Regions from separate parts of the Homo sapiens genome. Here all the other regions are reported to be linked to region 5. The links are microRNA targets in miRTarBase. Many come from high-throughput screens and were not tested one by one. Region 5 holds a microRNA gene; each other region holds the end of a gene's coding sequence.
Evidence for each region. Region 5 holds the annotated microRNA hsa-miR-21-5p (UAGCUUAUCAGACUGAUGUUGA, at 1,410-1,431, shown strand). A microRNA usually pairs through its seed, bases 2 to 8, with sites in the 3' UTR of a target mRNA and lowers its output. Matches are read on the target gene's strand: a 7mer-m8 pairs with bases 2 to 8, a 7mer-A1 pairs with bases 2 to 7 and ends in A, and an 8mer does both.

Region 1: miRTarBase lists PGRMC2 as a target of hsa-miR-21-5p. Seed matches in the 3' UTR shown: 7mer-m8 at 2,041-2,047 and 8mer at 2,591-2,598.
Region 2: miRTarBase lists FBXL17 as a target of hsa-miR-21-5p. Seed matches in the 3' UTR shown: 7mer-A1 at 2,244-2,250.
Region 3: miRTarBase lists PHF20 as a target of hsa-miR-21-5p. Seed matches in the 3' UTR shown: 7mer-m8 at 2,076-2,082.
Region 4: the mRNA of ARHGEF12 is a reported target of hsa-miR-21-5p. The part of its 3' UTR that is shown has no 7-base or 8-base seed match.
Region 6: miRTarBase lists PBRM1 as a target of hsa-miR-21-5p. Seed matches in the 3' UTR shown: 8mer at 996-1,003.

What each region holds. Positions count from the first base shown.
Region 1 is chr4:128,268,011-128,272,180 of GRCh38, reverse strand. PGRMC2 (progesterone receptor membrane component 2) reads left to right here. Exons shown (of 3, transcript NM_006320.6): 3 at 768-2,939. The coding sequence ends at 865. Among named protein-coding and RNA genes, the nearest start is that of PGRMC2, 18 kb to the left of the region's middle.
Region 2 is chr5:107,858,116-107,862,285 of GRCh38, forward strand. It overlaps FBXL17 (F-box and leucine rich repeat protein 17), which reads right to left. Exons shown (of 9, transcript NM_001163315.3): 9 at 920-3,745. The coding sequence ends at 3,605. Among named protein-coding and RNA genes, the nearest start is that of EFNA5, 190 kb to the left of the region's middle.
Region 3 is chr20:35,947,031-35,951,200 of GRCh38, reverse strand. It overlaps PHF20 (PHD finger protein 20), which reads right to left. Exons shown (of 18, transcript NM_016436.5): 18 at 831-3,716. The coding sequence ends at 3,574. Among named protein-coding and RNA genes, the nearest start is that of SCAND1, 5.4 kb to the left of the region's middle.
Region 4 is chr11:120,484,599-120,488,768 of GRCh38, forward strand. ARHGEF12 (Rho guanine nucleotide exchange factor 12) reads left to right here. Exons shown (of 41, transcript NM_015313.3): 41 at 469-4,170. The coding sequence ends at 479. Among named protein-coding and RNA genes, the nearest start is that of GRIK4, 25 kb to the right of the region's middle. RefSeq lists an enhancer at 938-1,082 and a cis regulatory region at 1,010.
Region 5 is chr17:59,839,864-59,844,033 of GRCh38, forward strand. It overlaps MIR21 (microRNA 21), which reads left to right and starts at 1,403; the gene lies at 1,403-1,474. It overlaps VMP1 (vacuole membrane protein 1), which reads left to right. Exons shown (of 12, transcript NM_030938.5): 12 at 1-2,392. The coding sequence ends at 48. RefSeq lists an enhancer at 449-1,178 and a silencer at 2,464-2,658.
Region 6 is chr3:52,544,734-52,548,903 of GRCh38, reverse strand. PBRM1 (polybromo 1) reads left to right here. Exons shown (of 32, transcript NM_001405607.1): 32 at 669-3,537. The coding sequence ends at 841. Among named protein-coding and RNA genes, the nearest start is that of UQCC5, 10 kb to the right of the region's middle.

The DNA.
Region 1 (4,170 bases), not on the chromosome of region 5:
GATGGGAATCCCTTGAGCTCAGGAGTTCAAGGACTAACCTGGGCAACATAGTGAGACTTGTCCAAAAAAAGAAATTGCAAAAAATAGCTAAATAAAAATATGATTGTTACATGTGATAATTATTTTGAAAATCAATATTTAAAAAAATGACTTGTTACAAATTCTAAGCCTCAAAAATTGTGATACTTACAGTCAGCTTCTTCATTAAGGTTTAGTTTTTTAAAAATACAGGCTTATATTTAAAACTGAGTTGATTACTGATTTCAATACTATAATTTATTCCAAAATGATTTTACAGATCTTAACACTCGAAATGTAGATAAAAAATATCTTTCCCCTTTCTTATGCCCTCATAACATCAGTTTTTACCACTTGTGTGATGCTGTCCCAGCTGTTTATCTGACCCCTGGGTCCCTTGGAACAGCTGTTCTGGTTTAGCTGGGTACTGAGATGGGTCCTGGACTTACTCATTTTTAAAAAAGATCTCCAAGTGATTCTGATGCAGTATCCAACTAAGAATCACTGGTACAGAACACCCTCTTGCAAAGAATTCCCAAGCCTTATAAGTTCCCTAATCCTGTTTTCTTTTGTTCAGGCTTTACATGTGTATAAAGACCAGCCATGGTGAAGCAATTTTAGAATATTTAGATAATATTCTAATAATCATATTTTATATGATTCTAAAACAGACAAATGCCTTTTCTCTGTATAATGGAATAGTGAAACAAATTTGATCACCACTGATTTTCTTTTGATGTATCTTTCAGAAAAATATGATTATGTAGGCAGACTCCTAAAACCAGGAGAAGAACCATCAGAATATACAGATGAAGAAGATACCAAGGATCACAATAAACAGGATTGAACTTTGTAAACAACCAAAGTCAGGGGCCTTCAGAACTGCAATTCTTACTCCCTTTCACAGACTGTCCGGAGTCTTTGGGTTTGATTCACCTGCTGCGAAAAACATTCAACAAATTGTGTACAAGATAAATTAATCTCACTATGAAGATTTGAATAACTAGACATTATTTATGCTGCCAAACTCATTTGTTGCAGTTGTTTGTAATGTCTAGTGGGGCTTCATCATCCTGAAAAGAAGGAGACAGGGATTTTTTTAAAGAGCAAGAAAGTCACAATATTACTTCTTTCCTTCCTTTTTTCCTTCTTTCCTTTCTTCTTTCTCTTTCTTTCTTTTTAAAATATATTGAAGACAACCAGATATGTATTTGCTACTCAAGTGTACAGATCTCCTCAAGAAACATCAAGGGACTCCTGTGTCACATACTGTGTTTTTATTTTAACATGGGTGAGGGAGGCGACCTGATCAGGGGAGGTGGGGGTACACATCAATTTGAGTTGTTCAGGCTACTGAAACATTAAAATGTGAATTCCCAAACTTTTCTTTTTGGCTTTGTCAGGGAAAAGAAAAATATCTTTATAAAGAAATCTTTGGAAATTAGGAGAAGGAATTTCAGGTGGGTTTAAGTCAGAGCTAGTTCCCCAACAGAAAGATCATTTGAAACCAGTTTTTATCCCTTCTCTTTCCTTCCCTTTCCCTAAATCAAATCAATATTAATTGTGCCTTATTTCACTTAACATAGACTTGAATTATTTTTAGGGAAAGCCCCTATAATGAATTCAGAAATCACTACAAGCAGCATTAAGACTGAAGTTGGAATATTCTGTTGACCATAAAACCTTGATATCATTCTGTGTATATAGAATGTAAAAGGAATATTACAGTGTTAACTGCCATATATGTAATATACACAAACTCAATTAGCATTGTAATGGCCAAATGCATTCCCCCATGCTTTTCTGTTTTCAAAAAAATTGAAAAACAAATCAACTCTTATCCCCAACAGCTGCCTAATTTTAGGAGTCTGACCCTCCACATCTCACTGGTGTGGGTGCATGGGGCTGTGGAGTGGGTGTCAGTATGGATGTGTCTGAATGTGTGAGGCCTTGGAAGGGACTCTTTCTGCAGATACTGTAAATACAAGTACCATTTTAATAAAGCATGTACAATAAACCAAAATAAGCTTGAGTTGGACTTTATATACAGAACTGTAAGCCAGTGCATTATGATACAGTTGTAAGATTGTGCATTTGATTCAAGATAAGGAAAAATCTTGGAAATGAAAAGCAGGCACTGGTTAACCAAGTTGTACACATTGTACCACATTCAGCATAACTTTAGGAAGAAATTCCACTTTGTGGAACATTCTCCAGAAATCCAAGATTATTCAGGTAAGAATTGGTATATTAAATGTACATCTTTTTACTTTCTATTTTGATGCCAACTGATTATACTAGACAATTAGCACTCCAGGTGGTTATTGAACACAAAACAGTAAAAGAATATTGCACTGATAGATACTAAATTATTATTTTATTAGGTTGAAAAAGCCCTTACTAAAAGCCCCTCATATATCAATTACTTTATTTCATTATGACTACTTAGGTTCCGGGCTGGGGACAAGTTCACTTAAAAAGGCAATGTTATTTAACAGGTCACCAGTTAAGACTTCTGCTTTGTAGATACATGCAGAAGCCATCAAACAAGGGGGAGCTTTTAACTGCAACAATAAGCTAAAGTATGTAAAATACTACATTCTATTCAGTCTTGGAGTGTTTTGTAGAAAGTTATCTTCAGCCAAATCTTTGCTGAAGACTGGTTGTGGAGTGTTGGTAAATGCTTTGTGTTTTTATGTAAAATATTTTCTAAACAAAAAATGTTAAAAGTACATGTCCTCTGTAGTAAACTGATATCTATATATATGAATCATTCAAGCCTAAAGTCTAGTAATAAACTGTACTTGTGAATAGAGAAACCCTAAATATTCATGCAGAAAAAATTATGCGGTCTGTTAAGAAAAATGAGTAATTTGTGTTTTGGACTTGAAATAAACAGTGTTCTGTAGATAATTCCTCAACTTCAGTTGAATGTTTCTCATTCTCAGGTAGTTTTTCAGGCAGTATTTGAATGAGGGGACCAGACAGTGCTGGTATTGTTCCTTTGTTCCTGTTCCCCGCTCCCCCCTCCACACAGACAGACACATGCACACACACACACACACACTCCTGCTTAGCCCTATTTTCGAAACTTGCCTGATAATTAGAATTGCTTAAGGTACAGATTCTTAGCCTTCAATCCAGACGTACCACCCGCTAAGCCAGAATCTTTAAGAGAATGGGCCTCAGAATTTATTTGTAAGGAATACCTCAGGTAATTCTGATCAGGAACACTTAGGAAACACTGGTTTTTCAAGTTAATATTGACCATCTTTGTTAGGCACTTGAAATGGCCTTACTCAGGTAATTTTGGTCTGATTCCCTTCATCTGGTTTTGTGTCATTCAGAAGACTTCACAAAATTCTAATGTATGATTTTAGAAAACAGCAAATTTTGATAGTCTTTAGATTTTTATCTTTGGGTAGCATTTCCAAGTTGTCATATTTCCCACATTAAATCTACACTGTGTGTACTAGCCAGTTTCTCTGCATTAGGAAATGAACCCATAACAGTTACAGATCAGGTTTTTAAAACCTTGACCATGGTGCTAAGGCTGCTTAGGTTTCCTAACAGTAATTCTACGTGCCTTTCTGTAGGTAGATCTGTTTCTGCAGGTAGATCTTCAGAATCCAACATTACACCTACCTTTACCCACATTCTTGAACCTAATTTGCTGAATTACCACTGGGAGATATTTTGTTCTATAGAAAACAGATATTTTCTACAGAATCAGGCTGTCCTTATCCAAGTATTTCACATAACCTCTATTGATAACAGAAGTGCAGCAAGTTGCTAGTAAGATGTGCCATTAACATGTTAACAGTGTGTAACTACAGAGCTTTTATGTGTCAGAATAAGCGGGTAATACTGTAGTAAAGAATTTATAAAACTTTCAAGTTGCTTTGAGTATATTGAAAATAAGAGTCATGGAATATTGTAACAGTGATACTGAATGAATTGTTCTAATTAAAGTAGCAAATGCTTAAAAGATAGCTTTTGAGTATGTTCCATTAAGGTCAGCCATCAATTTGTTAGATGATACTCATCACTGATTATTTTCTATTTGACTATGGCAAGAAAGCTCCAATAAAGACGACCCAACTTTCCTGTTTTTAGGCAAAAACCATCATTCCTAGGCACTGTTAGAAAAGC
Region 2 (4,170 bases), not on the chromosome of region 5:
CCCAAGCAAAGCTGGTAAATTCCCGCTACTTCTCTAGCCTTCATGAAAATCCTCCTCCTCTGTGGAGCTCTCCCTTCCCAAAGCTGCTGCTCGGCCCTAGATGCGCTCCCCATAATTATGCCCATCATTATATCTATTGTACTCCACTGTTATTGCTAGTGCCCCACAATGTCCCCTTGTTAGGCTGTGAGTAACTTGAGAGTGGGAGTGAGTTCATTTATCTTTAAATTTCCAGTGCCTATACGTATTTGTCACTCAATAAATGTTTTATGAATTTATTTACTTTGGAAAAATAGAATATATGGCTATATAAATGATGACTATTTAGGAAATGGGATTTTAACAACTCATTTGATACGGTTTGGCTGTGTCCTCATCCAAATCTCATCTTCAACTGCAGTTCCCATAATCCCCACGTGTCGTGGGAGGGACCCAGTGGGAGGCAATGGAATCATGGGGGTGGTTTCCCCCATGCCATTCTTGTGATAGTGAGGAAGTTCTCATGATATCTGATGGTTTTACAAGGGGCTTCTCCCTTTGCTTGGTTCTCATTCTTCACTCTCCTGCCACCTTGTGAAAAAGGACTTGTTTGCTTTCCCTTCTGCCACGATTTTAAGTTTTCTGTGAGTCGATTAAACCTCTTTCCTTTATAAATTACCCAGTCTCAGGTATACCCTTTTAGCAGCATGAGAATGGACTAATACACACTTATGTAAATCCTTGAGATTTTAATCTTATCTCTATAATCACCAGCCCAATTAGAACCTCCTAAACTCAGTCTCGTTTATTATTCTGGGTTAGTCAAACCTACATAAGTCTGTAGTGAAACACAGAAATACACAGACCACTGCATGCATCATACCCAACCAGCATTGGGGAGGTCATTTATTGTCTCTAAAATAAAACAAAAGACACAGTGTTTTGTTTCTCTTTTATTGCAACCCACTGCAAGGTCAAAGATTCACGGAAATATAGAAACTACAAACCGGGTGAATTTTCTTTATCCACTCAAAAAGACATTAAAGACAAAGGACCAGAATTTTCCACTACAGCAATATATTTCATAGTCTTTATTCTGAAAATACTGTTGACATTTTGGAGAGAATAAAAAGCCCTGCATTAAACGTGTTCACATGTATTTATGACATTCTAAGCAAAAAAAAGAAACTCTATATTGCCCAGAAAAATTATTTTAAGCCTCATTTCAAAGCATCTAATGAGAACACATTCAACAACCATCACAGGACCACTCAAGGTGATGCTTTTTTCTGGCTGTTTTTTTTTTTTTTTTTTTTTTTTTTTGAGATTAATGCTTTGAGGCTGGATATGGTATTTCTACGGATTTCTACAAATGTACCAAAGCAGTTTTCCAGATTATGTTGCATCAGGCTTTCTGGATTAGTCAACATTTTAGAGAATAAGTGCAAGTCCCCACCCCACCCCCACCCCCCCAAGCTAAAGCATGTTATAGTGCTGTACTTTAGATTCAAACAATGCAACATTTAAAAAAATCAATTATACATTCTGAAACCATTTGACAACCAAACTGTAACACTCCAAAGGTTATTACAACTTTGAACTGAAATGGTACCATCTATATCATAGATGGCTCTCCCTTCTTTTGTCTTTTTTAACTATTTAAAATATAGTATGACATATATAAAAATTAAACTTTTGCATATTCACTCAAGCTACTATTACTATACATACTGTCTTATAAATTAGTTTTGGATTAAAAATCAGTTAAAATATTGTGAAATAAGATATTTCAGTGGTGGGGAAGTGGATATGAAAATGATACAGTTCAATGTGTAAGAAGAAATATAGTTTATTAATGTTAAACAGCTTTTTTCTTACACAAATTTTATTCCCTTCAAATTAAATTAGAAACCCATTTAGTTATGGGAAGAATACTCATGGCGCTTACTGACTAGATTTTCCTAACCGATTGGGATTAAAACAAAAATGCCACATCAGAAACATGTTGACATAATCAAAGGAAACAGTTGTTTACAAAAAAAGAGAATCATTAGAAATCAGTAAATGGCATTCAAATGTAAAGCTATCTTGTTTCTTACAGCTAATGTCATGTTAGCAATGTGAGACTTAAAGAAAGTGAAACTCAAACCTCAGTATATCTGTTAAAGACCAAATAACAGTTATATTCACTCAGGGAAAAATAAATAGCAACTTCACAAGTTAGGGTTTTGTTTCTAGTTCTACTGTGAAAGATAATCACTCTTTAGCTTAAAAAGGCTCCCTGATGTCCTCATTATAAATCTAGACACAGGAACAGTTATTTGAGCCTGAGTCCCTATTATGAATTAATTGTAAAGATGTGTTAAATCAAAACATATATTCATTTACTGATAGGTCTTGTCTTAACTGAAGCTGGCAATCCTTAATTAAACAAAGAAATGCTTATTTCTGACAAGTGTAAACAGAATTTCAATGAACAGATTTTCTAATTTTCTTTCTTAACTCATATATTAGCTAGCAATAGATCTTTGCAGTAGCATGAGAACTAGTCCAAAATGACAACATGCATATATCCAAAAAACCTGTTCAAGAACCCAAAGCAAAGCAAAAAGAGCAACAACAGTAGAAAGATTGTCTACTTATATCTCACTCATGAATCTTCTATTAATGTGACTACCCTCTCGTATCTCAGAAATAGACTTTAATAATTACCAAAATTAAGAAAATAATGAAATGATCTGTAGTTTTTAAAATAACTGCACACCATTAATTACATTGGTGGCTTCAATGCTAAGATTAGTTTCAAATATCATTAAAATATATCCTGACCAGTTACTATCCAGGAAATAAAAGCTAACACAATGTTAACATAAAACCAACTAAAATATTTAGTGCTCAACAGAATGCATTTGTAGAATAATGTATAATTAACTTTCGTGAGCTGGCCAGGAGAGTTCAGACTGTTGCCTCTATATAACAAATTTAGAAAAGGCTTTATTCTTTCTAGTCCCCAAGTCACCCACCAGATAGCAAGTTGGCCACCCGAGGATACACGGAGTTAGGCAGTGCCACAGTGGATAACATGCTACCTTAGTGGCCTGGAAGAAGGCTTCTCTGTCAGGAAACGATCTAGAGTAGATCAGAGCCCTGGTGTAGATGTGCACACGTGTGAATATGTGAGAGAGTGTAAGTGCCTGTACGTATAACATCACTTCTGCTGTAGTCATCATCAGTAGAAGTGCACAATTCATCCCATGTAAAAAGAAGGCCTTCTTACTTGGACATCTCCAAGTGGCAGCAATTAGAAGCTCAAAATAATACATCCAATTTTTTGACTCTATATTAAAAATAATTTTTTTTTAAAGAGAAAGAAGCCTTTGAAGTTAAAAACTAAAAAGTTTGTGGCTTTCATAATCTTTAATTTCTAAGAAAAAAAGCCAGCTCACTTGGGAACAAATGACAACTGCACTTTTGGTATGCAGTATGCAAACAAGACACAAATACACATACTTGAACACACACAGACAGGTGACAGTTAAAACCCTTCCGAGAGATCAGCTCCCCAAATGTACAATTCTCCTCTGCTCTGCTGAATGATCCCAGTGGACTAGGCGAGGCAGGAGCGCTAGGAGGAGGCGGCAGACATGTTGGGGGTCCAGCCCATCTGATAGGCTCTCTCCAAGGTCCTCTTGCAGTCCTGCAGGACGGTGCTGAAGGTGATGTGGGGGTACTGCTGCACCAGCTGTTCCACCGTCACTTCGTTGACCTGCAAACAAAGAAGAGTCACCATCACGCACAGAGACCACCAACACCACGCCGCTGCCCACGCTCACTGATGTGCTGCAGCTGGCTCACTGTGACACGAAGAGCCCTCGCCTTGTTCCTCCTAGCGATGTGAGGAAGGGTTTTGTGAGGAGATATGTGTCCCATTTCATCTGACCTCTCTGATCTCCCAGTAACACACCTGCCCTTAGGGATTTTTAATGTAACATCAAGAAATCAAAAGTGTTTTCTAGAAGCATAAATGACTGTGATTTGTCAAGATCTTAACAATGTCCATTGAAAATCTAGTGCTTGGGAGGTAAAGAAGCAGTAAGATAGCTAATGTGCATTTGACTTCATCATCAACCCGACAGCCTTTTTAGGACAAAAATTGTGGAATGCCGGAGAGGACACACTAGATTCCAGACA
Region 3 (4,170 bases), not on the chromosome of region 5:
TGGGGTTTCACCATGTTGCCCAGGCTGGTCACGAACTACTAAACTTATTTTTTTTAATTTTCTTTCTACAATAATAAATTAGCCTTAGTTCACCATAACTTTTTGTTTTTGTTTTTTGTTTTGTTGAGACAGTTTCACTCTGTTGCCCAGGCTAGAGTGCAGTGGTACGATCTCGACTCACTGCAACCTCCTCCTCCTGGGTTCAAGCAATTCTCCTGCCTCAGCCTCCCAAGTAGCTGGGACTACAGGCATGCGCCACCATGCTAATTTTTGTATTCTTAGTAGAGATGGGGTTTTGCCATGTTTGCCAGGCTGGTCTTGAACTCCTGACCCCAGGTGATCTGGCCGCCTTGGCCTCCCAAAGTGCTGGGGTTACAAGCGTGAGCGACGGCACCCAGCCTTTTATTTAGAGACAGGGTCTCCATCCTCAGCCTCCCTAAGTGCTAGGATTACAGATCTGAGGCACCTTGCCTGACCAACTTTTATACTTTGTAAGCTTTTAAATTTTAACTTTGACTTCTGTAATAACACTTTGTGTTTACACACATGGTACAACTATACAAATATATTTTCTTTATATCCTTATTCTATGAGTTTTTTTCTAGTTTAAATTTTTTATATATATTTTACTTTTTAGATTTTTGTTAAACACTAAGACAAATCCACGCATTAGCCTAGGCCTATGCAGTAGGACCATCAGGACATCACTAGGTGATGGGAATTTTTCAGCTCCATTATAATCTTATGGGACCACCCTGTATATGGGGTCCATGGTTGACAGAAACGTTATATGATGCATGACTGTAACTCAACAATACGTAACTGAAACATAGCAACAAGAACCTGTTTTATTTTTTCCAAATACAGATACAGAAGTCTGCGTGTTTTGCAAATATTGCTTCAAAGCAACATTTCTATATACAGCGCCTTCTGTTCTAATAGCGCGTAAACATAGATATGTATCCACAGTGCAATGTTGGCTCATCAAGGATCCACCTTGCATACACTTACCACTTAAAGAAACAAAATGATTAGTCAAACCGGAACTATTTTTGTCAAGGTAATTTTTTATAGGTGGATAGTTTTTCTAAAGACAAAACTTAGGTAGTGCACATATTTCTTTCTTTTCTTTTATTTTTATTTTTTTGAGATGGAGTCTTGCAGTTGTCGCCCGAGCTGGAGTGCAATAGCGCAATCTCGGCTCACTTCAACCTCCGCCTCCCAGGTTCCAGCACCTCTCCTGCTTCAGCCTCCCAAGTAGCTGAGATTACAGGCGTCCGCCACCACGCCCAGCTAATTTTTGTACTTTTAGTAGAGACGGGGTTTCACCCTGTTGGCCAGGCTGGTCTCGAACTCCTGACCTCAGGTGATCCACCTGCCTCGGCCTCCCAAAGTGCTGGGATTACAGACGTGAGCCACTGCACCCAGCTGATAGTGCACATATTTCTAAATGGTAACAGCAATGTTTGCAAATAACGGTTTCCAGTGCTCCAACATAGGGTTAATTCACCTTGACCCAGGAATTGGGAATGGAGCCCCTCAACATGGCTTTAAATTAGGGAAGCACAATGAGGTTATAAGAACTTGGGGAGTCTTCTCTGCTTCCCTAAGAACAAAAGTCACAATGAATGAAAGGAGATTACTTCCTTTACCAAAAATTTAAACAATAATCCCAATAATGGCCAGTTGGCAAAATTAGGGCAATTCAGTTTCTGCTTACATCGTTGAACAAGACATGAAATTGACTACCTTAAAAGTTACAGCTTCCACAGATGTGATTAAAACTCAAATGTATTTTCAGAAAAGAAAAATCAGTAATCTAATAATACAACAATCATCACGCCTCACAGGTGTGGCTACAGAAAGCCATCCTGTTTCTTCCCTTTTCAGACTGCATGACAGAACTCTTACAATGCAGCTGTCTGAACGTGCATGCCATGCACGCCTGTGCATTTCTTCCCACGCCAGAAACACCAACGTTAGCAGTGAGAAACAGCCTCTTGTAGAGGAATCGTCGTTTTGTTATAGATGTTATAGCCACGTGTATTCTCTCTGATGGACAGCTATAGCAGATCAGCTTATACTTGTCCTATAATTCATTATATATCAAATGGTGAGCAAATCACTAGACAGAACATTCCCTGAAATAGATTTTAGTACAGAGGCCTGAATTCATGTCCACAATGACCTGTGCTTAACTATTCCAAAGGTCGCTAAAGATACTGTTACTACTATTGAGATATTATTGGCTACTTCACGTTTACATAGTAAATGTTTGCAGCATATAACATTACAGACTCATAAACCCATAATTAACTTATAAGTGTTAATGGACAACTGTGCTTTGATTTTTGCCTTTAGTGATAAGAAAACAAAGTAGTGAAATGGGTCACTCCTCAAAGCATGGAACATTTTAACTTTGCCTAGTAAGGAAAAACAAAACAAAATATAGCAATTACATGTGGAACCGTAACCTGCAAAAGTAACACAAATATTGTCTCAAAAGGTACAAATAGGTTGTACCTGGACCTTAAGCAGCATGATCACCTTGCTCTCACAAAATAATACAAACAGGAAATGTAAAATGTTAAAGTATAGTAACAAAACAATTCTGAAAACGCTGACTACTAAACACCCTTCAGGAAGGAGAAAAGTCGCACATGTAGAATTTGAAGTTTGTTTACAACAATATAAAATAAGGTAATTCCCCAAACCACATTCTTTGTAACAAATCTTTACAGTGAAAGAGTTTGAAATTTTGGGAAACATTTTTGGACATTAAATAGAACGGGGAAGCTGTCAATATTAAGAAGTGGGTAGAAAATGCTGTCCTTTGGGTTCCAGACCCTGCCTGCTTCGGTTTGGAATTCCTCCTAGATTCTTATTACTGTGAGTGAGATTCTAGTTCTTCCATAGGCTGTATGGGCTCTGCTACAAAAGCCATAACCCAGCCAGCTCTGGGGTGAAGGCATACAAACTTGTCCCCAGTACCATGAAGTCATGCAAGAGATGTGGTGAGAAAAGTGAAGAGTCCTAAGGAGAAAGCAGGGCAGCCAAGACTCTGCTCTTTCCCAACCTCCACAGCATGGTGAGCTCACAATATTCCTATGAAGCTAGAAAAGGAAAATGATGCCTGCTGCCCAAACACCATGCCAGGAAGAAACCAGGGAGTTGGCATGTGCCCCAACGTGATAGAAAAGTCAATTAAATAAACTCCAAATTGAATTTACAACTGTCTCCAACTAAACTTTTTTGGCTCTCATTCCGTTTATCATCAGTGGCACAATTTCAAGTGAAGTTTGTGCAAAAAGACTCTCTTCATTCAACGATGTGCACAGAAGAGGGGAATCCCAAGAGTCTATTTGCTACCTTTATGGCAGGCTTCGAGATCAGAGTGTCCTCCCGCAGCCAAAATGGCCTCTTTGTCCAATGTCCACCACACTCCTGGCCCAGATCCCTGAAGTCAGTCGGTGTCACGTGCATTCAGCATGCTAGGTTTATTTATTTAAATATGCGAAGCTCCTCCTGCAGGTGCCCCAGGATTGTGCCCCCATGAGTTTTGGGTGCCCAGTTTCATGTTGAGCAGCAGAGGGCGATCTGCTGCACCTTGCCCAGGTCCATCAGCAGCTGCTTGATACAATGCTTGAGCTGCGGAAGCCTGGCCAGCGGCTCAGGGGGCTCCAGTTCCCCAGTGTAGTCCAGCCAGCTCTCCAACACTGTCGGCAGAAGAGAGAGATGAGACCTAGTGAACTCCCAACACTTGATTTGCAAGAACATCAGCAAGCATTTCAGCACCTTATTCCATCAGACATGGGGCAAGGGAGGAAGGGCCATTTCAGCCTCCATGGGGCAAGGGAGGAAGGGCCATTTCAGCCAGCACTGTGTCAACACCTGCTCTACAAAGTGGTACTCCCAGGACAAAACACAAATGCTTTAGAGCAGCACAGTCCAAAAGAACTTTCTGCGATGATCAATGGTCCAAGTCTGTGTCATCCAATACAGTAGCCACTAGCCTTATGCAGCTATTGAGCGCTGGAAACATGGCTAATGCAACTGAGGAACTGAATTTTAAATTTTATTCAGTTTTGGTTAAACAGCCACACATTGCCAGAGGCTACTGTTACCAGAGTCTAGAAGTCTTGGAAGGAAGCACCTTTCTGAGTGTTACCA
Region 4 (4,170 bases), not on the chromosome of region 5:
ATTCCATTTCTCTTCTGTCTTTAAAGAACTGCCTGTTTCTAAACATCAGATATCAAGCGGAAGCTCATGCCTGCTGACTCTACTCTTCTCTAAGAGGAACTGCAGTTGTCAGTTCCCATACCATCCCCTCTTCTCTCTCTTTTCACCTTTTCAAAGCAGAAGGCAGAGCAGTGGGAAGCCTGGTAAATCACAGATTCGGTGTGAGGCTTACTGGTACTGCTGTGACTCCCTAGTGTGGAGGATTTGGCCTTATTGGATGTTGGTGCACTTGCCTCTGCTGACAGTGTGGCTGGTGTCTCCCCTGACTGCAGATGGATTTGTGTTCCCTGCAGCAGTTTATACTCATCTGCTTACATACTGATTCAGAAACAAAGATTGAACCACGCCCACAGATGTCATGGGTATTCTTTGCAATGTTAGTATATTCTTTTTCTTAATATCATTTCCATGTATCTTTATTCTTCTCAGATAAAAGTTAGAGCCGCATGTCCTGGAGGTGACTGCAGGTTGTTGGATTTGGAGTATCGGCCGTGTCTCACCACATCCTGGCTCCAGTGTGGATGCAGAGAGAGTGTGACAGAGGATCTGCCTGTGAACCACCTGGGATTAGTCAAGTCCCAAGGTGCCCAGAGTGGGACTAGTTCTTCACAGTGTGGCAGCTGCACTAATCTGTTTGTGAGGGAATATCCATTCCCTCACTCTACTCTCCTCACTATCGGAAATTCATTTTGATTCAGAATAAAAACCAAATGTATAGAGCTTTGGGTGTAGGATATGAAATTGTACTTAGATTTAAGAAAAAGAGAAAATCAGATGTATTTATTTGACTTCATTCCGTATTTGAAAGCACATTTTAATTTTTATTTGCCTTGTTTTGTTTTAATTGAGTAGTGAGAGTTTTAGACCTTTGTCTTTAGTACACCCAAGGATCAACTGCTCCTGAAGCAAAGAGGTCAGGATGGAGTATGCAGAAGTTGGGTAGAGAGGTTAAGAAGAGGAGGAAGTGAGACGGGGAAGGGAGGAGCACCTTGCTTCACTATACAGTATTCCAAGCTCTCTGCTGTCCAGTAGGCTGCTTCTCTGAGGGTCACCTCAAAGGTATGCTATGCCGTGTGGCTCTTATGTGCCCAGGTGGTGTGGTCAGAGAGTGGATGGGCTTCCTCCCGCCCTGAGGCAAGCACCTCTTCTCTGTAGCTGGGATCAACCACAATTAATAGGAATCCTCAACATACTAAATAGCAGGCACTTGAAAATGGGTGTGTTTTCTTCCATTGTCGTCTTTTCTATTGAGGGTTGGGATTTGGGTGGGAGAGGAAAGCAAATTTTATTTTCTTGACTATAAATTTGTTATTCTTGGTATCATTTCATTTTTATAATTATACATTAGACATTGGCACTTGTGTAAAACTGTCCCTGCAGATTGAGCAGGAAGTAAAAACAAATGGAAATGCTTCGGATAGTGGCAGGGGTGGGGGTTGCTAAGGAAAGGGTGGGATGGGAGTGGGTAAAGAGTTTGGGAAGGTTATCTAACTGAATCACTACTGAGTTGAATCATGGCTATCATTAGCCACAGGTACTGCTGATTATAAGGCCAGTAAAATTTTAGTACCTGGAGGTTTGACTCTAATTTTTGCACTGATGGTGCCAAAGGGCCCTGAGTCAAAAGGATAGCCAAGGGTGGAGTGGAAAAAGATATGGTGAAGGCAGAACTGCTCACACCAGCTCCAGAAGCACGTCCTCTGACTTCACTGCCGCAGCTCTTTCCACACGGGGCCGTGATTGACCCTAAAAATTGCAGACCAGCACATACACTGGACACTGCAGGCAAGGTGTTGGTAACTGCCTGCTCTAGGATGAATAGTAGCGTTAGCAGCACCCTACAGAGGGTAAGTTTCAGAATTGTAATTTGAGAACTCCTTCAATTATATTGACTTTCTTTGGTTTTCCTTGTGCATTAGGTATATATTTTTTGAAGTATTTTTGCCAACTAAAATGAAGTCTGTAAATTCTGTTAATAAACAAGGAGTTCATCCGTTGCTCACATCTTTCATTGGTGCCCTCTGAACTCTGTGGGTTGCTAGGATGTAATTTTAATGCTTCCCTGCAGTCCAAAGATGATTTTTTCACCACAAATGGTAAGGGATGCCCACCTACTTTTATAAACACCACTGCAACTTAACAAGTTTATTTATCTATGTCCAGATTTCTGTTTCTGTCCTAAATTGATCTGTGTTTTTAGGTGGATCAACTTGGATCTTTAGACCTCATCTATAAATTGAAATTATATTTTTAGTCATAAGCCAAGTACAATCTAACTCAGAATGGGATTAAAAATTTTAGAAGCAGAAGCTAATATATAAATGAAGTTTGGGATTTGGAACTTTCTGTATCTCTTAGGAGGAACAAGTAAAAACCAAATGGTTACATTGTGCTGCTAGAAATAATGTCATTCTCAATTAAAAGGGTTACACCTGTAGCCACTTGACACTAACACCATCGAGGGCAATTAATCAGGAGAAAAGTAAATATAAAAACTTTGCTCTTAACGTCACACACTACAGGGTAATTATGTAATTCTCTAGCACTCAATTAAGAAGCTTGTAGGTTAGCAAAATTTCAGTTTCTCTAGTTCAGCCAGTGTCTTGTCCTTAGTAATTATTTGCTTTCCCTGCAGTTCAATTTCTCCTTGGAACTCTAACAGGACTAACTGGAAAAATACTTTGACCATAGCTCTAGTACTTCCAAATAAATTCATATCTAGATTTTCAAACAAAGCCCCAAGATGAAGTCTAATTCTGAAAATATCTCACAATTTTTGAATGTTCTTTTTATCTTACCGACCTAACTTCTCTTTTCCCTCCCAACTTGGCCTCCCACACGTTCCATTTCATTTTGGCCATTATAGTCACATCCGTTTGACTTTGGTTGTGACATCTTCCTTTCAGGATGATGGAATTAGATGCAGTCTGTCTTTGAGTGAGACTGGTCACCATCAGAGGAGTTTTTTCTAAGTGACGTGACTAGAAGTTGAAATCTACTTCCCTGCTAAAGGGCACAGGGGTGGTGTACAAAGAAAGCTACCTTCCCAGAGCAAGCAGGCTGCATTTTAGCTATGGAAGTGACCTGCTGTGACACTGTGCTCTCTTCTGTGGGCTTAATGGTTCCTTTGCTATGAAGTGGCAAATTACATGTAGAGTGTCTCCTTCCTTTTCAGAGAACAGTTAATCAAGGCAAATCAGCAAGCCCCCAAAGTGCTGTAATTTAACATCATGATTACCACCTTCGAAGCTATATATTTTGCATACTTTAAAATCACCTAACTTGGACTGCTTGAATTACATTGGCTTTTAGAACCGAAATTGTAACTATGTATTGTATTTCATGGGAGGTATATTTTATGAGCTTTTTGGCTTTCTTTTTTCCCACAGCAACTGCCAATGAAGGATGAATCCCCTTTTTAAAAAGTTGTTGTTGTTGTTGTTTATTTGATTTTGAGTTAGGAGGGATAATAGAGAAGTCCATTTAAAAATTATTTTTAGAAGCTAAAGAAAGTAATTATGCTTCCTGTGAATTGTCTTTTACTGGCATCTTTGTTTTCCTCTTTGATGTTAGTAAATTTGGTGTAATACGTGGGGCTTCCATATTTCAAAGTGGAAGCTTTCTTCTCTGAAGTCGATATATGGTTTTGAATTACTAGAGCTTTGGTCAGTATTTCCTTCCCTATATGTCACAGAGGGCACCACTGAGAACTGCGTGCATAGGACCTCAAAATACAAAATTAGCAGGGCCTCACAGTCAGCTTCCTCATGGCTAGTTTTTCCCCCTTATATTACAATTTTTGTTTTATAAGTCATTTTTTTCCTGATATTTCCACCACTTTTCAGAGTCATCTACAAAATTTTTCTTTCCTCAAGAAAAGAGTTCCTTTTGCCTTATTCCTTATGCCTTCCCCACTGGTATTGAGGGTTTTGATAATAAATTGGTAGGAAAAAAAAGTACCTCCTAGAAGGAAGCCTTCCCCACCATTTCCAGGTGCCAACTGCTAAGCAGATATATTCCAAAAATGGTAACTGTCATGTGCACACTGTTGGTTATTTTTAATAAGCCTCTTCCTACTAGAACATTTTATTTTCCTTGTTCACCATACAATCATGTACTCTTTAACAGAAA
Region 5 (4,170 bases):
GCCAAACGAATCCAGCAGCGGTTGAACTCAGAGGAGAAAACTAAATAAGTAGAGAAAGTTTTAAACTGCAGAAATTGGAGTGGATGGGTTCTGCCTTAAATTGGGAGGACTCCAAGCCGGGAAGGAAAATTCCCTTTTCCAACCTGTATCAATTTTTACAACTTTTTTCCTGAAAGCAGTTTAGTCCATACTTTGCACTGACATACTTTTTCCTTCTGTGCTAAGGTAAGGTATCCACCCTCGATGCAATCCACCTTGTGTTTTCTTAGGGTGGAATGTGATGTTCAGCAGCAAACTTGCAACAGACTGGCCTTCTGTTTGTTACTTTCAAAAGGCCCACATGATACAATTAGAGAATTCCCACCGCACAAAAAAAGTTCCTAAGTATGTTAAATATGTCAAGCTTTTTAGGCTTGTCACAAATGATTGCTTTGTTTTCCTAAGTCATCAAAATGTATATAAATTATCTAGATTGGATAACAGTCTTGCATGTTTATCATGTTACAATTTAATATTCCATCCTGCCCAACCCTTCCTCTCCCATCCTCAAAAAAGGGCCATTTTATGATGCATTGCACACCCTCTGGGGAAATTGATCTTTAAATTTTGAGACAGTATAAGGAAAATCTGGTTGGTGTCTTACAAGTGAGCTGACACCATTTTTTATTCTGTGTATTTAGAATGAAGTCTTGAAAAAAACTTTATAAAGACATCTTTAATCATTCCAAAATTGTGTCCGTTTTCTTGAGCGTTTTGATTTTTTACTTTTAGCTTATACCAGCTGAATGGCAGCCTTGCCTAATCCACCTACAACAAGAATTTCTTAAGCTTTCTTTTATTTGCATGAGAGAGCCACTACCAAGGCATGTTTTGTTATGCTGAAACTGGGCTGCTGCATACTGCTAAATGGCACCTCTGGGATTGGCCTACCTGGGGATTTCTTGGTTTGTGAAAACAGGAGAGGAGAAATATCTCATACAAGTGAAAGGATACTGGAGAGAGAAATTACCCATTTCTAAAAAAAAACCACACTCTGTCGTATCTGTGTTAATGTTTTCTAGCATGTACTCTGGTTTCAACAGACACAAATTTATATGTTAACCCAGTTTTCTTGCCGTTCTGTAAGTGTTTTATTCTTAGTGTGATTTTTTTCCATTGGGATGTTTTTGATTGAACTTGTTCATTTTGTTTTGCTTGGGAGGAAAATAAACAATTTTACTTTTTTCCTTTAGGAGCATTATGAGCATTATGTCAGAATAGAATAGAATTGGGGTTCGATCTTAACAGGCCAGAAATGCCTGGGTTTTTTTGGTTTGTTTTTGTTTTTGTTTTTTTATCAAATCCTGCCTGACTGTCTGCTTGTTTTGCCTACCATCGTGACATCTCCATGGCTGTACCACCTTGTCGGGTAGCTTATCAGACTGATGTTGACTGTTGAATCTCATGGCAACACCAGTCGATGGGCTGTCTGACATTTTGGTATCTTTCATCTGACCATCCATATCCAATGTTCTCATTTAAACATTACCCAGCATCATTGTTTATAATCAGAAACTCTGGTCCTTCTGTCTGGTGGCACTTAGAGTCTTTTGTGCCATAATGCAGCAGTATGGAGGGAGGATTTTATGGAGAAATGGGGATAGTCTTCATGACCACAAATAAATAAAGGAAAACTAAGCTGCATTGTGGGTTTTGAAAAGGTTATTATACTTCTTAACAATTCTTTTTTTCAGGGACTTTTCTAGCTGTATGACTGTTACTTGACCTTCTTTGAAAAGCATTCCCAAAATGCTCTATTTTAGATAGATTAACATTAACCAACATAATTTTTTTTAGATCGAGTCAGCATAAATTTCTAAGTCAGCCTCTAGTCGTGGTTCATCTCTTTCACCTGCATTTTATTTGGTGTTTGTCTGAAGAAAGGAAAGAGGAAAGCAAATACGAATTGTACTATTTGTACCAAATCTTTGGGATTCATTGGCAAATAATTTCAGTGTGGTGTATTATTAAATAGAAAAAAAAAATTTTGTTTCCTAGGTTGAAGGTCTAATTGATACGTTTGACTTATGATGACCATTTATGCACTTTCAAATGAATTTGCTTTCAAAATAAATGAAGAGCAGCTGTCCTTCTTTCCTCTTTTAAGTGTTCAGCTGTGGCATGCTCAGAGGTTCCTGCTGGATTCCAGCTGGAGCGGTGTGATACCCTTCTTTTTCAGCTGTTCGTGCCTTCCTTTCTTGTATCCACCAAAGTGGAGACAAATACATGATCTCAAAGATACACAGTACCTACTTAATTCCAGCTGATGGGAGACCAAAGAATTTGCAAGTGGATGGTTTGGTATCACTGTAAATAAAAAGAGGGCCTGGGAATTCTTGCGATTCCATCTCTACTTTGTATAAGTCTCATTTTGTGCCTTACACATCTGCAGTATTTATCATGTTCCAACTTGGTGACTGTCAGGCAGTGCAATACATCAGCAGTTTATCACCGAAGAGCTGAGGAATACCTCCCTTAAAACAGACAATGTCGGCCGGGCGCGGTGGCTCACACCTGTAATCCCAGCACTTTGGGAGGCCAAGGCGGGCAGATCACCTGAGGTCAGGAGTTTGAGACCAGCCTGGCCAACATGGCGAAACCCCATCTCTACTAAAAATATAAAAAATTAGCCGGGCGTGGTGGTGCACGCCTGTAATCCCAGCTATTCAGGAGGCTGAGGCAGGAGAATCCCTTGAACGCAGGAAGCAGAGTTTGCAGTGAGCCGAGATGGCGCCACTGCACTCCAGCCTGGGTGACAGAGCAAGACAAAAAAAATAACAGATGATGTCATATGAAAATGTGCAATGTCCAGTTTTCCCATAGTTTTCTGTATTCTCTGTGTGCATAATCTGGAGTATGAGTCTGGGAAGAAAAAGGTTTTTAGTTTCATTTGGATAGTGGCCACCTCTCCATTCCCTACGAATGCTAGAATGAAGTTACTTTTTTTTTTTTTTTTTTTTTTTTTGAGACAGAGTCTTGCTCCGTCGCCCAGGCTAGAGTGCAATGGTACAATCTCGGCTCACTGCCACTTCCGCCTCCCAGGTTCAAGCGATTGTCCTGCCTCAGCCTCTGGAGTAGTTGGGATTCCAGGCGCCCACCACCACACCAGGCTAGTTTTTGTATTTTTAGTAGAGACGGGGTTTGGCCATGTTGGTCAGGCTGGTCTCGAACTCCTGACCTGAGGTGATCCACCTGCCTCGGTCTCCCAAAGTTCTGGGTTCACAGACGTGAGCCACCATGCCCACGTAGAATGAAGTTTCTTAAATACACTAGTTAATTATTGAAACATATGCAGTATTGAGTGCTCCTACACAAACACGCTCAGCCTCTGCCCCCAGTGTGCTCTGTGCTATCCACAGCCTTAGTAGAACATGAGGCTTTTTGTCATTTCACCAGTCATTCAATAATGACTCATTTGAGTATGGATCATGCACTAGCTAAATAACCAGTTGCGCTCATGTACCCTGAAGCAAATTGTTTAGCCTGACCCATGTGTAAGAAGATCACAGAGATTCCCAACCTTTCAGTGTCAAAAAGCCTTTCCATATATATTACTTTAAAACCCATTTTCCCCCATGTGTAATAGTCTATGTTAATGACGGTTCGGGTTTCTTCTACATTGTTTGTGACCTGAGAAAGTTTAAAAGAGCCTCAGTTTCTTTCATCTATAAAAATAAAAGAGATAGAAGGACAGTTTACCTAAGGAATAAATCTGGTAACATGTAAAGTACTGAAATAGGCTGGGTGCAGTGGCTCATGCTTATAATCCTAATACTTTGGGAGGCCAAGGCAGGAGGATCCCTTTTAGGCCAAGAGTTCAATAAATAGGGCCGGGCATGGTGGCTCACGCCTGTAATCCCAGCACTTTGGGAGGCCAAGGTGGGCAGATCACCTGAGTTCGAGACCAGCCTAACCAACATGGCGAAATCACATCTCTACTAAAAATACAAAAATGTAGCAGGCACGGTGGCACATGCCTGTAATCCCAGCTACTCGGGAGGCTGAGGCAGGAATCGCTTGAACCCAGGAGGCAGAGGTTGCAGTGAGCCGAGATCTTGCCATTGCACTCCAGCCTGGGCAACAAGAGTGAAACTCCGTCTCAAAACAAACAAACAAAAAAGAGTTCAGTAA
Region 6 (4,170 bases), not on the chromosome of region 5:
GAAGTTTGGAAGTTTCTACTTGTTCTTGATTTCTAAACCAACTTTGGTCATCTCATTTCATTTCTTTAGAGTAGAAGGTATATTTTCCCTTTCTTCACATGTTTACCTTTTTAGGAATTTTTGTTAACATTGAAGTAATTATTAAATATCAGGGATGCCTACAAAAAAATAATGATCAGGCCGGGTGCAGTGGCTCACACCTGTAATCCCAGCACTTTGGGAGGCCAAGGTAGGCAGATCACCTGAGGTCAGGAGTTCAAGACCAGCCTGGCCAACATGGTGAAACCTGTCTCTACTAAAAATAGAAAAATCAGCCAGGCTTGGTGGCAGATTCCTGTAATCCCAGCTACTCTGGAGCCTGAGGCAGGAGAATCGCTTGAACCCAGGAGGTAGAGGTTGCAGTGAGCTGAGATCGCGCCACTGCACTCCAGCGAGGGCGACAGAGCGAGACTCGATGTCAAAAAAAAAAAAAAATTTATGATCAAATCTTTTAGTGCCTAGTAAAATGATATAAGAAATGTGCCTGGAAATATTCTGCAGTTAAAATTCATAATATTTAATAAATATTCAATGTTTTGTGTTTTAATAAGTTCGTCAGACCTTAGAACTGAGGGAAATTTTGCCAACTTAAAATTCTAATTTCTGTCTCTCTGTACTTTAATTTTCAGCTCGAAGACGCGACGTCCATTTGTCGAAAGAACAGGAGAGCCGCCTACCCTCTCACTGGCTGAAAAGCAAAGGGGCCCACACCACCATGGCAGATGCCCTCTGGCGCCTTCGAGATTTGATGCTCCGGGACACCCTCAACATTCGCCAAGCATACAACCTAGAAAATGTTTAATCACATCATTACGTTTCTTTTATATAGAAGCATAAAGAGTTGTGGATCAGTAGCCATTTTAGTTACTGGGGGTGGGGGGAAGGAACAAAGGAGGATAATTTTTATTGCATTTTACTGTACATCACAAGGCCATTTTTATATACGGACACTTTTAATAAGCTATTTCAATTTGTTTGTTATATTAAGTTGACTTTATCAAATACACAAAGATTTTTTTGCATATGTTTCCTTCGTTTAAAACCAGTTTCATAATTGGTTGTATATGTAGACTTGGAGTTTTATCTTTTTACTTGTTGCCATGGAACTGAAACCATTAGAGGTTTTTGTCTTGGCTTGGGGTTTTTGTTTTCTTGGTTTTGGGTTTTTTTATATATATATATAAAAGAACAAAATGAAAAAAAACACACACACACAAGAGTTTACAGATTAGTTTAAATTGATAATGAAATGTGAAGTTTGTCCTAGTTTACATCTTAGAGAGGGGAGTATACTTGTGTTTGTTTCATGTGCCTGAATATCTTAAGCCACTTTCTGCAAAAGCTGTTTCTTACAGATGAAGTGCTTTCTTTGAAAGGTGGTTATTTAGGTTTTAGATGTTTAATAGACACAGCACATTTGCTCTATTAACTCAGAGGCTCACTACAGAAATATGTAATCAGTGCTGTGCATCTGTCTGCAGCTAATGTACCTCCTGGACACCAGGAGGGGAAAAAGCACTTTTTCAATTGTGCTGAGTTAGACATCTGTGAGTTAGACTATGGTGTCAGTGATTTTTGCAGAACACGTGCACAACCCTGAGGTATGTTTAATCTAGGCAGGTACGTTTAAGGATATTTTGATCTATTTATAATGAATTCACAATTTATGCCTATAAATTTCAGATGATTTAAAATTTTAAACCTGTTACATTGAAAAACATTGAAGTTCGTCTTGAAGAAAGCATTAAGGTATGCATGGAGGTGATTTATTTTTAAACATAACACCTAACCTAACATGGGTAAGAGAGTATGGAACTAGATATGAGCTGTATAAGAAGCATAATTGTGAACAAGTAGATTGATTGCCTTCATATACAAGTATGTTTTAGTATTCCTTATTTCCTTATTATCAGATGTATTTTTTCTTTTAAGTTTCAATGTTGTTATAATTCTCAACCAGAAATTTAATACTTTCTAAAATATTTTTTAAATTTAGCTTGTGCTTTTGAATTACAGGAGAAGGGAATCATAATTTAATAAAACGCTTACTAGAAAGACCATTACAGATCCCAAACACTTGGGTTTGGTGACCCTGTCTTTCTTATATGACCCTACAATAAACATTTGAAGGCAGCATAGGATGGCAGACAGTAGGAACATTGTTTCACTTGGCGGCATGTTTTTGAAACCTGCTTTATAGTAACTGGGTGATTGCCATTGTGGTAGAGCTTCCACTGCTGTTTATAATCTGAGAGAGTTAATCTCAGAGGATGCTTTTTTCCTTTTAATCTGCTATGAATCAGTACCCAGATGTTTAATTACTGTACTTATTAAATCATGAGGGCAAAAGAGTGTAGAATGGAAAAAAGTCTCTTGTATCTAGATACTTTAAATATGGGAGGCCCTTTAACTTAATTGCCTTTAGTCAACCACTGGATTTGAATTTGCATCAAGTATTTTAAATAATATTGAATTTAAAAAAATGTATTGCAGTAGTGTGTCAGTACCTTATTGTTAAAGTGAGTCAGATAAATCTTCAATTCCTGGCTATTTGGGCAATTGAATCATCATGGACTGTATAATGCAATCAGATTATTTTGTTTCTAGACATCCTTGAATTACACCAAAGAACATGAAATTTAGTTGTGGTTAAATTATTTATTTATTTCATGCATTCATTTTATTTCCCTTAAGGTCTGGATGAGACTTCTTTGGGGAGCCTCTAAAAAAATTTTTCACTGGGGGCCACGTGGGTCATTAGAAGCCAGAGCTCTCCTCCAGGCTCCTTCCCAGTGCCTAGAGGTGCTATAGGAAACATAGATCCAGCCAGGGGCTTCCCTAAAGCAGTGCAGCACCGGCCCAGGGCATCACTAGACAGGCCCTAATTAAGTTTTTTTTAAAAAGCCTGTGTATTTATTTTAGAATCATGTTTTTCTGTATATTAACTTGGGGGATATCGTTAATATTTAGGATATAAGATTTGAGGTCAGCCATCTTCAAAAAAGAAAAAAAAATTGACTCAAGAAAGTACAAGTAAACTATACACCTTTTTTTCATAAGTTTTAGGAACTGTAGTAATGTGGCTTAGAAAGTATAATGGCCTAAATGTTTTCAAAATGTAAGTTCCTGTGGAGAAGAATTGTTTATATTGCAAACGGGGGGACTGAGGGGAACCTGTAGGTTTAAAACAGTATGTTTGTCAGCCAACTGATTTAAAAGGCCTTTAACTGTTTTGGTTGTTGTTTTTTTTTTAAGCCACTCTCCCCTTCCTATGAGGAAGAATTGAGAGGGGCACCTATTTCTGTAAAATCCCCAAATTGGTGTTGATGATTTTGAGCTTGAATGTTTTCATACCTGATTAAAACTTGGTTTATTCTAATTTCTGTATCATATCATCTGAGGTTTACGTGGTAACTAGTCTTATAACATGTATGTATCTTTTTTTTGTTGTTCATCTAAAGCTTTTTAATCCAAATAAATACAGAGTTTGCAAAGTGATTTGGATTAACCAGGTTTGGTTGTTCTGTTAAAGTGGTGTCAGATGTTTCAAGCAGATTTAACTCCTGCAAGCCCTGATTTCATGCTGACAAGGTTGTATGTGACTGCCAATTTAAGAGAACAAAGCTCCACAGATGGAGATGAAAGTCAGTGTCCAGACCTCTGGTTCAGGGCTCGGGCTGCATTAACACAGAGCCAAATGTAGTCAGACTGCAGACTGAAGTGCCCCACGCCACGCCTCAGGCTGGCAGTCAAGGAATTCCTACATGTCCTCAGCATGGGCAGAAATGCAGGTTGAAATTAAAATTGGAGAATTACTGAGGGCGGAAAGTGAGGAAAGCATGTAAGCAGTATAGCCCACTTCAAATAGCTTGTCTGTGGCCAGAAGAAACAGGTGGCCCAGGTGTCTTTAACATCTTTATAAACTCTTAAAACATGACCATGCTTTTAATAGAAAGTGTTGGTAAAAGCAACCAACTGTTTTCCTCTAATATCACTTTGCAAATCCCTGTGGTTCTGTTCTCCTGAATTTAGGATAGTACCGGCATCTGTGCCCCTGAGCATATTTTGAACAATCATTGATGTATAGCTAGACATCCCATCTGAACACTGAGCAAACAAATATTGCTATTA